Homo sapiens: one gene and its partner. The protein of the gene in region 1 interacts with the protein of each later gene in a pairwise test. Each region holds a gene or a part of one and is shown on either strand. Other genes may lie near its edges.

Evidence for each region. The genes of interacting proteins can lie anywhere in the genome.
Region 2: the proteins of CRX (region 1) and AASDHPPT interact in binary tests that used the Homo sapiens proteins (3 or more experiments, as listed by UniProt).

Annotation. Positions count from the first base shown.
Region 1 is NC_000019.10:47,824,919-47,831,941, forward strand, and holds part of CRX (cone-rod homeobox protein), read left to right. Parts: intron 1-7,023. UniProt on the Homo sapiens protein: Transcription factor that binds and transactivates the sequence 5'-TAATC[CA]-3' which is found upstream of several photoreceptor-specific genes, including the opsin genes.
Region 2 is NC_000011.10:106,072,765-106,080,683, reverse strand, and holds the start of AASDHPPT (L-aminoadipate-semialdehyde dehydrogenase-phosphopantetheinyl transferase), read right to left. Parts: upstream 3,023-7,919; 5' UTR 2,974-3,022; coding exon 2,791-2,973; intron 1,218-2,790; coding exon 992-1,217; intron 1-991. UniProt on the Homo sapiens protein: Catalyzes the post-translational modification of target proteins by phosphopantetheine.

The sequences.
Region 1 (7,023 bases):
CGAGTGATGAATTCCTGGACATTCTTTTTTTTTTTTCCTCCCCAGGAGACAGGTCCTCTTTCGATTGATTGATTTTTTTTTTTTTTTTTTGGGATGGAGTCGTGCTCTGTCGCCCAGGTTGGAATGCAGTGGTGCAATCTCAGCTCACTGCAGCCTCCGCCTCCCGAGTTCAAGAGATTTTTGTACCTCAGCCTCCCCAGAAGCTGGGACAACACCATGCCCGGCTAATTTTTGTATTTTTAGTAGACGGGGTTTCACCACGTTGGCCAGGCTGGCCTTGAACTCCTGACCTCAAGTGATCCGCCTGCTTCAGCCTCCCAAAGTGCTGAGCCACTGGCCTGGCCTGTTTTGTTTTGTTTTGAGAGAGGATCTTGCTCTGTTGCCCAGGCTGGAGTGCAGTGGCTGGATCATAGCTCACTGCAGCCTCCAACTCCTGGGCTCAAGCGATCTTCCCACCTCAGCCTCCCAGAGTGCTGGGATTACAGGTACGTGCCACCACGCCCAGCCCTCACTGGAGGCCCTTCTGTCATCAGCTGCCTCAGGTTGCTGCCAAACCCAGGGAAAGATTTCAGTGGATGTTCAATATTATTATTGTTATTATTCTCTGCTGACATCTTGTCTAGGCAGCACTTTATCATTATTATCAGCTGTTTGATCTGGGGCCCACACTTTCCTCCTGCTGAGCCTCCTCTCCCCTATCCGTTAAAAGGGATGATCCTGGCCAGGCACTGTGGCCCACGCCTGTGATTCCAGCACTTAGGGAGGCCGAGGTGGGCGGATCACCTGAGGTCAGAAGTTTGAGACCAGCCTGGCCAACATGGAGAAACCCAATCTCTACTAAAAATACAAAAAAAAAATTAGCCAGGCATGATGGCACATGCCTGTTGTCCCAGGTTGGGAGGCTGAGGCAGAAGAATCGCTTGAATCCGGGAGGTGGAGGTTGCAGTGAGCCAAGATTGCGCCACTGCACTCCAGCATGGGTGACAGAGACTCCGTCTCAAAATAACAACAACAACAAAAACAAAAACCCAGAAAGTGGTGATCGTAAATGTGAGCTTTCTTGGCTTTCCTGGAAGGTTAACTGCTTAGCCAGGCAATCTGACTCAGATTTGACGGCGAAGACAATGAAAGTGTGTGCTTTTGTTCCAGGCCCTGCAAATGGTCCCCAGTGGGGCAGGTTCACCAGTTTCCTTGTCTCCACTCTCTGGAGGTTCATATTTAACATTATTGGTTTTTGGAGAAGTGGGAGAGGACAGAGGGAACCCAGGTTAGGGGGCTGGGGGAATAGGACCTTCAGGAATTACTCTAGCCTTGAAATCCTGGATTCTCCACTGCCAGCCTGTGTGTGATCCCGGGTAAGTCACACTTTCGAGCCTGAAGATGTTCTCTAAACTGTAAGCATCAGGCAAAAGCAGTGTCTCATGCCTGTAATCTCAGCAATTTGGGAGGCTGAGGCAGGAGGATCTGCTCAGGCCAGGAGTTCAAGACCAGCCTGGGCAACATGGCAAGACACCTCTCTCTACACAAAAATTTAAAAAATTAGCTAGGCGTTGTGGCACACCTGTAGTCCCAGCTACTTGGGAGGCTGAGGTGGGAGGATGGCTTGAGCTCAGGAGGTCGAGGCTGCAGTGAGCTATGATTGTGCCACTGCACTCCAGCCTGGGTGACAGAGTGACATGCTGTCCCTAAGACCAAAACCAAAACCAAAATGTAAGCATCATAGTAATACAGTCTCTACCTCCCAAGGTTGTGCTGGGGATTTAATGACTACCTGTATAGAGAAGGCTTGTGTATTAGTTAACTATTGCTGGGTAACACTTATCCTAAAATTGAGCAGCTTCAAACAATAAACATTTCTGATCTCTTATAGTTTCCAAGGGACAGGAATCCAAGAGTGGCTTAACTGGATTATTCCGGCTCAGGGTGTTCCATGTGGTTGTGGTCAGATGTCGGCCAGGACTGAAGTCACTTAATGGCTTGGCTGAGGCTGGGGAACTAACCTCCATGGTAGCTTACTCTCATAGCTGTTGGCAGGAGGCCTCATTTCTTTGCCACATAGACCTCTCCGTGGGATGGCTTGAGCATCCTCACAACATGGCGGCTGGCTTTCCTTAGAGCTAGCCTTGGAAGCCACGCTCTGTCATTTCTGCAATATCCTGTTGGTTACACACGTCAGCCAGCTTGTTAGTAGGGACTACACAGGGCATGAATATCAGGGGGTAAGGATTATTGGGAGTTACCTTGGAGGCAGTTTGATTTTGGGGATTTAATGTAGCTGCTTTTGATTTTATTGTCAGCACTGAGCCTTCTCGTGACATTCCTACCAGGTTTTACTTGTTCTTTCTGCTTTTCTCCATGATCAATCTGCTATGGTCACACAGGGTGCCTTGTTTCTTCTCCAACAAGACCAAGTTGGAGACCCTGTCTTGCTCAGGGTGACGGTGTGAGATTCCAGCCTCCAAGCCTTTGCACCTGCTGTTTTTTTAATTTTTTTTTTTTGCCTGGAAATCTCTATTCCAGATCCACACAAATTCCTAGATGCCTCACCCACCCCAAATGCCTTCACTCTCATAACAACCTGTTTTATTTTCCTGGGAGTTCTTGAAACTTTCTGAAGGCTTTTTTTTTTTTTTTTTTTTTGACAGAGTCTTGCTCTGTTGCCCAGGCTGGAGTGCAGTAGTGCCATCTCAGCTCACTGCAACCTCCGCCTCCCGGGTTCAAGCGATTCTCAAGTAGTTGGGATTACAGGCACCCATCATCATGTCTGGCTAATTTTTGTATTTTAGTAGAGATGGGGTTTCACCATGTTGGCCAGGCTGATCTCAAACTCCTGACCTCAAGTGATCCTCATAACTCAGCCTCCCAAAGTGTTGGGATTACAGGCAAGAGCCCCTGCTCCTGGCCATGGCATCTTTATTAAAAAAAAAAAAAAAAAAAAAAAAAAAAAAAAAAAGGCAGGGCGTGGTGGCTCACGCCTGTAATCCCAGCACTTTGGGAGGCCGAGGCGGGTGGATCACATGAGGTCAGGAGTTCGAGACCAGCCTGGCCAACATGGTGAAACCCCATCTCTACTAAAAATACAAAAATTAGCCAGGTATGGTGGCAGGCCCCTGTAGTCTCAGCTACTTGGGAGGCTGAGGCAGGAGAATCACTTGACCCTGGGAGGCAGAGGCTGCAGTGAGCCGAGATCAAGCCATTGCACTCCAGCCTGGGGGACAAGAGTGAGACTTCATCTCAAAAAAAAAAAATTTTTTTTTCCTTGTTTGTTATTGGTTTCTCTAGGAACGGAACCAAGAAGTTCAATTCTATGAGAACAGAGAAGCTGCGGTCTTATTTCTTCCTATATTCCTAGTTCCTAGAGCAGGGAAGGCATTCAAAAAATATTTACTGAATGAACAGTAGAATCTCAACTTAAAATAAACAGAATCTGTCCCCCTCCTCATGTGAGGGATGAGAAGGAAAGGACAGTGAGAGGAACGGAAGAGTGGGAGCTCACAATAAACACCATCCATTTTTAATTCTTTTTCTTATGTTTCAAATATTTATTGGGGGTGCTGGGGACATGGCAGGAACCGAGATATTACCAGTCCCTGAACTCAGGTAACTGATAGAATTTGAGGGAGAGAGATAGATAAACAAACATATAAATATGTCGTTTAATACAAGCTGTGTCTTGAAGAAAAGGAGGTAGGGAGCGTGTGTGTGTGTGTGTAAAATCCAGTTTAGGGGCGTAGGTTGCTTTCTCTGGGGAAAGTAGCTGAGCTGAGACGTGGAGGAGAAGGGGTTAGCTGGTGAGAGGGGCTTTGGGGTGGGGGAGAGGCGTTCCTAGCCCAGGAAACGGCTTATGCAAATAGCTGTGGAGGGTGAGAGGTTTTCTGAGTCCATCCTAATGAGGGCAATGAGGAACCCTCAGAGGGTTTTCATGTTCTGTTTGCTTTTTTGAAGATTTTATTGTTGTTTTTGCTTTTGACAAGAACACACACACACACACACACACACACACACACACACACACACACACACAATTAAAAAGTAATCCAAACTATAGAGACAAGATATGGCTTTAGCATTCCTTCCCAGAGGCAGTCACTGGTGCCAGTAGCTTGCTTCCTTCCTGGGAATTTTCTACGCATATACAAGTGTATATTCTACACATGAGTAAAATCAATGCCTCATTTTGTTTATTAATTCATAATTATAATACTTATTATTTTTGAGATGGAGTCTCACTCTGCCTCCCAGGCTGGAGTGCACTGGCATAATCTCGGCTCACTGCAACCTCCACCTCCCAGGTTCCAGAGGGTCTCCTGCCTCCGCTTCCCAAGTAGCTGGGATTACAGGCATGCACCACCATGCCTGGCTAATTTTTGTATTTTTATTTTATTGTATTTTTATTTTTAAATTTACTTTATTATTATGACTCTTTTTTTGAGATGGAGTTTCGCTCTTGTTGCCCAGGCTGGAGTGCAATGGCGTGATCTCGGCTCACTGCAACCTCTGCCTCCCGGGTTCAAGTGATTCTCCTGCCTCAGCCTCTGGAGTAGCTGGGATTACAGGCGCCCACCACCACGCCTGCCTAATTTTGTATTTTTAGTAGAGACAGGGTTTTGCCATGTTGGCCAGGCTGGTCTTGAACTCTTGACCTCAGGTGATCCATCTGCCTCGGCCTCCCAAAGTGCTGGCATTACAGGCGTGAGCAACTGCACCTGGCCTATTTATTGTTATTATTGAGACAAGGTCTTCCTCTATTGCCTAGGCTGGTGTGCGGTGGCATGCTCATAGCTCACTGCAGTCTCCAAATCCTGGGCTCCAGTGATCCTCCTGCCTCAGCCTCCTGAGTAGCTGAGACTACAGGTGCGGACCACCATGCCTGACCAATTTTTGTATTTTTTTTTTTGTGGAGACAGCGTTTTGCCATGTTACCCAGGCTGGTCTCGAACTCCTGGGCTCAAGCAATCTGCCCACCTTGACCTCCCAAAGTGCTGAGATTATAGGTGTGAGACACAGCACCTGGCCATCTGCATTGTTTTAAAAATCACAAATGGTTGCGAGGTATACATACTGCCCAGCACCATACTTGTTTCCTTTGAATATATAAATATTATAATTTTATAATATTTATAATATATAATAACACAAATAATAATAAATATATATGGTTTGGTCATATACAATATATAAAATAACATTCACAAACACTTATTGTCAAAGTGCAATTAAATGGGAAAAAAAGAAAAACATTTGGCCAGGTGTGGTGGCTCATGTCTGTAGTCCTAGCACTTTGGGAGGCTGAGGTGGGAAGATCACTTGAGCCCAGGAGTTGGAGGCTGCAGTGAGCTATGGCAACGCCGCTGCACTCCGGCCTGGATGACAGAGGGAGACCTTGTCTCTTAAAAAACCCCAAAAAACAAATCTGATTCTCTGACGCATATATAATAAGCACAGGTCAAAGATTTATTTAAGTCATGAATGAAGGAACCAGCTGTTTCAAAGGAGAATTTGGGCCGGGTGCAGTGGCTCACGCCTGTAATCCCAGCACTTTGGGAGGCTGAGGTGGGTGGATCACGAGGTCAAGAGATTGAGACCATCCTGGCCAACATGGTGAAACCCCGACTCTACTAAAAATACAAAAATTAGCTGGGCGTGGTGGCGGGTGCCTGAGGTCAGGAGTTCGAGACCAGCTTGGCTAACAATGGTGAAACCTTGTCTTTACTAAGAATACAAAAAATTAGCTGGGTGTGGTGGCTCATGCCTGTAATCCCAGCTACTTGGGAAGCTGAGGCAGGAGAATAACTTGAACCCAGGAGGTGGAGTTTGCAGCAAGCCGAGATTGTGCCACTGCACTCCAGCCTGGGCGACAGAACAAGACTCCATTAAAAAAAAAAAAAAGGAGAATTTGATGAACAGAAGTTGATAGGTTTAGTCAGGAAAGACGGGCTGGAGAAAATTTGCCAGGTTAGATACAAAACTGGTTAAAGACCTACAGGACAATACAACTGTAACCTTTGAGGTTACCTTTTCTACCAGAGAGAAATCATTTGCAACCAAACTTCCTGGGGTTACCATTTACCTTGTCGAAGTCTAGACTCTAATCAATAATGAATAACAGACCGGGTGTAGTGGCTGACGCCTGTAATCCCAGCACTTTGGGAAGCCGAGGCAGGCGGATCACGAGGTCAGGAGTTCGAGACCAGCCTGGCCAACATGGTGAAACCCCGTCTCTACTAAAAATACAAAAATTAGCCGGGCATGGTGGCGCATGCCTGTAATCCCAGCTCCTCAGGAGGCTGAGGCAGGAGAATCGCTTGAACCCAGGAGGCAGAAGTTGCAGTGAGCCGAGATCGCGCCACTGCACTTTAGCCTGGGCGACAGAGCAAGACTCTGTCTCAAAAAAAAAAAAAAAAAAAAAGAATAGTAAATCAAATACAGGTACAGTCCCTTAGAATAGGGTCCCCAACCCCCGGTTTGTAGTCTGTTAGGCATGGGGTTGCACAGCTGGTGAGCAAGCATTACTGCCTGAGCCCCGCCTCCTGTCAGATCAGCGGTGGCTCTAGACTCTCACAGGAACGTGAACCCTATTGTGAACTGCACGTGCGAGAGATCTAGGTTGTACACTCCTTATGAAAATCTAAGGCACTGCCCACTCCCATCCATGGAAAAATTATCTTCTACGAAACCAGTTTTTGGTGCCAAAAAGGTTGAGGACTGCTGCCTTGGAATATGAAGCAAACTTTGGGTGGGTCTGTTAGACAAGACTCCCAGATGACTTGGAAATGGCATGCTGTCAGCTTTTTTTGTCTTATTGCCGAGCCTAGAACTTTTTTTAATTTTTATTTTTTTTGAGATGAAGTCTTGCTCTTGTCTCCCAGGCTGGAGTGCAGTGGCACGATCTGGGCTCACTGCAACCTCTGCCTCCCGGGCTCAAGCGATTCTCCTGCCTCAGCCTCCAGAGTAGCTGGGATTACAGGCGCCTGCCACCACGCCCGGATAATTTTTGTATTTTAGTTGAGACGTTTCACCATG
Region 2 (7,919 bases), on another chromosome or scaffold:
ATTTTCTTTAAAAATAGCAGTATATGCATCATAGGGTAGTTGAGAGAATTAAATCACAGAATATGTCTAAAGCACTATGTAAAATGCCATGACACGTGGTTAAGTGTTCATTAAATGTTAGTGATGATGACAAATATACAGCAGTTAAGAGAACCTGTATTTAGTATGTATTAAATTGCCTGGGTACATTCAACTTCACCACAAATGTTAGTGGTCCTTAAAGCCACCACTAACAAATTTCTAAGGCAATATATAAGCAACTTAAATATTTTAATAATGCTTGCTCCTCATTTTTACTTACATAAATGGGCTAAAAAGAGATGTATTTAGATGCAGAACAAAGAGTCGCCCGTTGGTATCCACTGGGGACTGGTTCCAGGACCCTCCTCAGATACCAAAATCTGCGCATGCGGCCCTATGGAACCTGCATATATGAAGTCAGCCCTCCACATCCTCAGGTTTCATATCCTGCAAATACTGAATCTTGATACACGTTTGATTGTGGATGCAGAATCTATGGGGACAGAGGGCCAACTACTGAAAAAAATTCACATGAGTAGACCCATGCAGTTCAAACTTGTGTTGTTCATGTGTCAACTGTATACGTTATCTCTACATAAGGACTACAATGTACTTTACTATTCAGATTCTTTTTTAAAAAACAAACAATTAACTGAAAAATTGTGGTTAATGTTTAAGTGAAATAAATTGAAGTATAATTCAAAAAAAATTTCACTTAATATTTCACTTTACCTCTAGGCAAAGTTATGGATCCCCAGTAACGGATAATCTATTATTTATGTGTAAGTCTGTAAATATTCATGGAAATATACCCTTTTCAGATTTATGCTCTCCATTACCTTTGTGTACTAAGCACATTTTCCCTAAACTGAAATATCTCTAATACATCTCCTGGCCTGAGATTACTCAATAGCAATAGAACTGAGGCATCGAGACACTTAACTGCCATACTAGAAAAATGCAACGTTACCTGGAAAACTAGTCTTCATTATATCAATTCCAACTTGCAGCTCAGGTTCAGCAGCAAGCACTGCATAGTCTCCTTGATGAGAGATGTTAAAGTTGAAATTCGGGTAAGGATTCGATGAGTCCTTTGCAAGAACTGGTTTTCCTTTTGCAGTTCTTTGCAAACGAATATGATTCCAAGGGATATTCAATTTCTCTGCAACTAATTTCCTTATCATCAGACGACCAGCCTGTTAAGTACATAAAACATTTGGTATGTACTGATGTCTACTAAAGATACAAGCACACTGTATGCAATAGTACTTTTTTTTGGTTTCTAAAATTTTCATTTTTAAAACTTTTCAAAATACTTAAGTATTAAACACACGTTAATTAAGACTTAAGCAATGCTTAAGTAGATAAAAAGTTAAAGCCCGCCTTAGCAATTCCCTCTCCTTTGCTAGTGACCAAAGTTAACAGCTGGCATCCTGTCAGTCTTTTCTGTATTTAAATATATGTGCATTTACATGTTTTTGCTAACTCTACATATAAACACAAACATGAGATTATACTTATGCAGTATTCTACCACATATAAGCTTTAAATTTATAAGTATTGGGAAGTATTTTATGTCTGTACACACACGTCTGGTCCATGCAGTTTTAACTGTAGCATATTTCATAATATTATTTCCCCTTTATTGGACATTTTAGGCTGGCTCTAGACTTGCTGTCAAAAACAACTCTGCAGTGAGCAACCCTACTGTACCTACATCTGTGCATATGTATTTCTAGATCCCATATATTGATCACCCAGCTTCAACAATTAGCAAGGCATGACCTATCTTGTTCTGCTCTCTCCCACCTCCAATTATTATTTTTTAAATAATTACTAAAAACACACACACAAAAAAACAAGAATATAAGATGACAAAGTATATATTTTTAAAAATATCTTTCAGGTTTTTTTCTTCTTCAATTCTAACACTGACTTTTAAAAACTGCAGGCTTTTAAATGTAGCTTATTTTACAATTCCTTACAAATGAGTAAAAAATTTTCACCAATGTGCCTTAAAAATTATCAACTAGTCTACATTTCAAACAGAAAGTGTTTCAATATGGGACATTTTTAAGAAAGGACTGTCTTTTAAATGATGGTAATTCACGGTTGTTTCAAATTGCACCATATTGTACAGATTACTTGTTTTGAAATCCAGTTTTCCATTTGTTGCTTCAAAATACATAGCTAAAATAAATAAATCTACGTAAAATACTGTTTCCCATGGCATCTAGTGAGGAAGGTATCCTCTCTGGCTTCAATTTCATTGGCTTCAATCCCGGGGAGCGCAGGGCTACAAACTAAATCATACTGTCAATAATTTCTAGGGCCTACCACGTGCAGGGAGTCCTTGGAGAATGATGGGATATTTAACAGGCAGAATAAGCATAGGCTATGAACGCACACAAACAAAAAAAAATAACATTTAAAGATAAAGACATAAAAACATTCATTACAGAAAAACCCAATTTTGTCGGCCTTCCCTACACTTATTTCATGGTTTAGGAGGGTCTCCATTTGAAATAACAAGGGGAAAGAGATAATGTTTACAGCCATCGCGGCCTCCAAGGCGGTTACAAAGGCCGTGGAAACCAGGCCGTGCGTCGCCCACAACTCCGCAGCGCCGGCTGCTGTCGCCCGGGCCGGCCACAGGCTCCACAGCGAGAGGGTCGCGGCCAGCGCGGGAGTGTCGGGTCTCCACAGCCCGGCCCGCCTCCCCCAAGATCTGCTTCCTAGGCTCTAAATACCAAAAAAGACCTGTAGTACCATGGCTGCCTTAGCGTCCCGGGCAAAGACGAACTGGCCAATGCGCTCCTTCTCCTCGGGCTGAATCGATCGCACTGCCAGCAGCCATTCGGCTCGGCTCGGCAGCCAAGTGCCGCAGGAAAAGGCCCAGCGCACGCCCTCCATGGATGGCACCAAGCAGAACCGTTTGGCAGGGAAAACCATACACTGAAAGCGGACCTCGCCGCTATCTCGGGCCTGATGGCGCGGACGCAAACGTGGCCCCACCCCCTTCTTCCCGGCGTCCGTGCGCAGGGGACGGGCCGTCGCTACGCAGACTGGCCCACCGACAGCCCTCCCAGCCCGCCCCCGACTCAGCCACCTCCTCTCGGAGAAAGCAGCTGGGGGCGGAGACGGAGATCAGCCCTGCGCTTTGCGGCATTGTATGACGTCAAGTAGGCGAGGCTTCGGAGGCGAGCGAAGGGCGGGACCAAGGCCAAGAGCCCGACAGTTACGCCACTCACACTTGCGGAAGAGTTAACGGGACAGCGGTGCAGGCCAATCGCAACCAGTCCTCTGGAGGCAGGGAGACTGGGGTGGAGACTTCGGAGACTGCAGTTGCAGGTGGGTGAGCTCCGGGGTCTGAGGGAGGAGTGGGATGGTAGCCCTTATTCTCAGGGTCTGAGTTGGCCCCTGTGACCCACAGAGAAGAGAATGTCCTTGGCTTCAGCTGCTTCGTGTACGGGGCACGAGAGGTTTCCATCTCTAGGAGGGGGTCTGCAGTGGTGCCCCCTGCAGTTGTGCAACGCATCAGCCCTGAGTTCCTTCTTTCCCTGCCCCCATCCGCATCAGCCTAAGACCCACCCTCACACAGTACGCTCCCGACCCTTAGCAGCAGCCTACCTGAAACCCTCCCTCCGAAGGCCGAGCAGAGGCACTATCCCCAGTGCGCAACACTGACCCCGCCTGGATCCGAGGCTGCCAGCGAGCAGCTGAGCTAATGCTGGCTGTTTATTTGGGGCGATGAAGCGACCCAGGTGCTGTTTTGCTATTGCCAAGCCTGGGCTAGAGCACTAGCGAGAAAACAGGATTCCATTGTTGAGGTATCAGTGTTTCCATCATGACAGAGGTCCTTGCTCTAACAGCAACAGAAACAAGTAAATAACTTTGCTCAGTTATTTTCTCAGACTTTGCGAAGGGTCATATTGATGTATGTCTGTTTCCTTAGTTGTTCCGTGTAGGCTGTTGTTGACTCTCGTATGAAAGCCCACGCGATCCAAGTGCCCTGCAGGTTTTGGTCCAGGGAAAAGTTGGTCTCTGCAGATGACTGTAAATGACTACCTGGAGGTCGATTAAAGTGCGGTACTGCGGGATTCAGCCGATTTCCTTCTTCCTCTGACTGCCCGGAAATATCAGCCAAAGGCCAGCGGTAGTAATTAACACAATTACCTGCCTATGATTTCTGTCCTATTTAAGATGGGTTCTATTATGTTTTTATCTATACTTGTCTTCATTAACTTTTCGTGATATCATAAGCCCCCCGAATCCCTCGAAAGTAGATGGGATTCTGAGCACACACACACACAAATTCAGATCCCCAAAGGACAGTAAAACGAATTATTGGCTTAATATATCATCTTAGCTAACCAAAAGCCTGTGTCAGCTGCCATGTTGAAAATCTGCTTACCAGCTGCAGGGAGCTTACAATCTGGTAAGGCAAATAAATCATACGCATAAAAAGTACAATAAGAGACAGTGTAAAGATACGTAAGTGATACTAATACCCATATCAGCAATGATCATAACTCACTTCTCCATTTTTAACTAAGAATCATATAACCTTTCCTTCTTGTCGTTTTAAACTGATTTTTATAACTTTGATACATTACGTTTCTGTTTCCAAAACACTTCTGTGTACGTTATTGCACATGTTCTGTGCACTAGTTATTACTGATGGAGACAATGAGCTCAGAAAGAGAATTTGTTTAAATTCAGGAATTCATATCCCATTATTTTACCATCGAGCAAGATCTCTGTGTATTAGATCTATGGAGCCTAATACACAGACAGTAACGTAGGGATTATTTGTACTTGGTCTAGAATCTAGAATATTCTCCCCTTCTCCCATTATCACATTCCTTGTTTCCTCTGTATCATTCAGGCCCAAATCTCATACCAAACAGAATGTCTCTGTTCACCTAGTCTAAAATAGCTTACTCTCTCCACTTCCAAACCTCAGCCCCAAACCTATCACCCTGTGAACATATTTTATAGGTTTGTTTAATCCCCTTCCCTGTGTGGTTTTACAAATTCTCCAGAGCTTAGCTTAAACCTTCTCTTAGGGCCTACTTCAGAGTACCTTTTTCCAAAACAGTATTGTTTATGTAATTCATTTGGCAGTTATTCTAGTATTGCCTTATGACGTCTCTCCTATTGTCCTGAATTATTTTCATGTGTGTTATCTTGCAAAATAGAATGTACAGTACTTGAGAGGGAATGTCATGTATACCTTTTACAAATAGTATACATGAGTAAATGTTATTAATGACTCCACAATAGATTTATTACTGTCAAGGGTAACACTGCTTTTTATATTCTATCTGCCTTTACTTCCCTCACTTTTATTAAGGAAATATAAATATGCAGTTCATAACTTGCTTAACTATATTAAATGAACCCAACAATTTTATTAAAATATTTTTTACTGCATTGGTCAGGGGAAGAAGAGGACTAAAGTAATAGGGGCTCACTCAGTCTGTAATGATCATCTTGCTTGGTGCTGATCTGTGGCTTCTTAGCAGGATTCTGAGGGACTCGTATTCTATTTCCAGCTCTACCACCAATTGTCTGTGTGACATTGGTCACACAGGATCCTATGTGTGACATAACCTCTTCCATGTATTAATTTCAATGGAAAGGCATCGGATGAGATCATCTCTAAGTCTAGGTGTTTTTTAGATATACTCACTAACTTTTTATTGGGTCACAAACTTTATTCTACCTCAAACCCTTCTTTTTTCCCCCAAGACTTATTTGAATAGCTCCATAATTCTACCAGTTTCTCAAGGAAGAAACCATGATGCTGCTCTTCTTTGACTCCCTATATCCAATCCATCTCCAAGTGTTTTTGGCTCTATTTCTAAAATACAGAAAAATCCATTTATTTCTCTTTATTCCCACTGTTAACAATCTAGTATAACCCACCATCATTTTTCATCTGAAATACTAATCAGTTTTCTAGCCTGCCTGAGAAAGGGGAGCACTCTCTTCCAATGTCTTCTATGCCATAAGCACAACTTGCTTTCAGAGCTAAATCTAGAAATCTATGCCCTTAATTCTTATGTTACATTGCCCTCTAATTAGACTGAGAAGGAGAGGCCAGCAAGGTAGGAAACCTGAAGAATGTTGTGGCACAGAAACTAAAAGACGAGTGTTTCAAGGACTAGTTAACAGTGTGAATTATCCTAAGAGGTGAAATAAGATGAGGAGAGAGAAGTGAGAATTTACCTTCAAGATGGTAGTGTGGTGACATTGACAAGGGCAGTTTTAATGGAGTAAAAGAAAGGAATTTTATTGTAGTGGGTTGAGACGATAACTGGAGGTGATGCTACCACAGAGTGTCCTTTAAAGAAGTTTTTCTGGATTTAGGAAGTAGAAAAATGGAATGGTAGCTAGAGGGAATAAAAGGTCAAAGGACAGATTTTTGTTTGATGTTTGTTTAAAGATGGAAGATACTAGAATTTGCATGCTAATGGAAAATGTCTAGTAGGGTGGGAGAAGCTCTTAATGTATGAGAAGGAAGGGGTATGTGTGTGGGGGGGGGTGTTCGGCATTCTAAAGTAGACTCCAGGGTAGAGGACCTTGTCTATGTTGTTTTTCGCTGTATTTCTAGTATCTAGAATAGTACCTGCCACAATATTTGTTACTCCATAAACTGTCTAATATTTGTTGAATAAATGAATGACTTGGACCCTACTTCTCTTACCTCCTTTCAATTCATTCTTGACATATTAGCTAGAAAAATATTTTTTAAAAAAATGATGTCATGTCACTGTCCAATTTAAAGTAATCAGTCGTTCCTATTTCACTTAGAATAAAATCCCAGCTCCTGTGACCCATAGCATCCTGACTGAGGTAGCAACTGCCTTCTGCAGCCCTATCTCCTAACCCTCTTCCTTTCATTAACTACTCCAGCCACACTGGCCGCCTTTAATTTCCTAAAACTGAAGGACTCCTTTACCCCTGTAGGGCTTTATATGTGATTTCTTCCACCAACCCCTTACCTTCTTATCATTCAATTCTCAAATGACACTTCAGAAAGGCTTTCCCTAATATTGTAGTGGCTGAAAGCAAGGGCTCTTGAGCCAAACTGAGTTCACATACCAACTCCCTGCTTACTTGCTATATGATCTTAGCCAAATTACTTAAATTATCAAAGCCTGTTTTCTCTGTTTGTAAAATGAAGATAAGTATCTCCTTTATCCAGTTTTTTTTTTGAAGATTAAAAGAGTATGTGTAAAACATATAGCATGGGACCAGGCATGGTGGCTCATGCCTGTAGTCAACAGCACTTTGGGAGGCTGAGGCATGAGGATCACTTAAGGCCAGGAGTTTGAGACCAACTTGGGTAACATAGTGAGATCCCATCTCTAAATTAAAAAAAAAAAAAAAAAAAAAGCTGAGTGTGCTAATGCACGCCTGTAAATCCCAGCTACTCAGGAGGATGAAGTGGGAGGACTGCTTGAGCCCAGGAGGTTGAGGCTTCAGTGAGCTGTGATCTTGCCACTGCAGTCCATCCTGGGTGACACAGCAAGACCCTGTCTCAAAAAAACAAACAAAAAATATAGTACAAAGCATGGCACATTATAAGCACTGTATAAGTGTTCCCTGTTACCCCTTTTGTTATTGTCTGAAATTGAATGCCCCATTGTTCATTTTTATTTCCACTTCCTACTTGTGTCTTCACAGTACTTATAAAAATGTATAATTATTTATTTGCCTACTTTATTTATTATGTCATTTTCACCAGATACTGGACAAGGAAAAAGCAGGGACCATGTCTGTCTTTTATTCTCTTTATATCTCTAGTGCCTAATTCGGTGCTTGTCATATACTTAGCATCTATAATAAATATTTACTAAAATAGGCCAGAAATCATGCTGTATATTGAA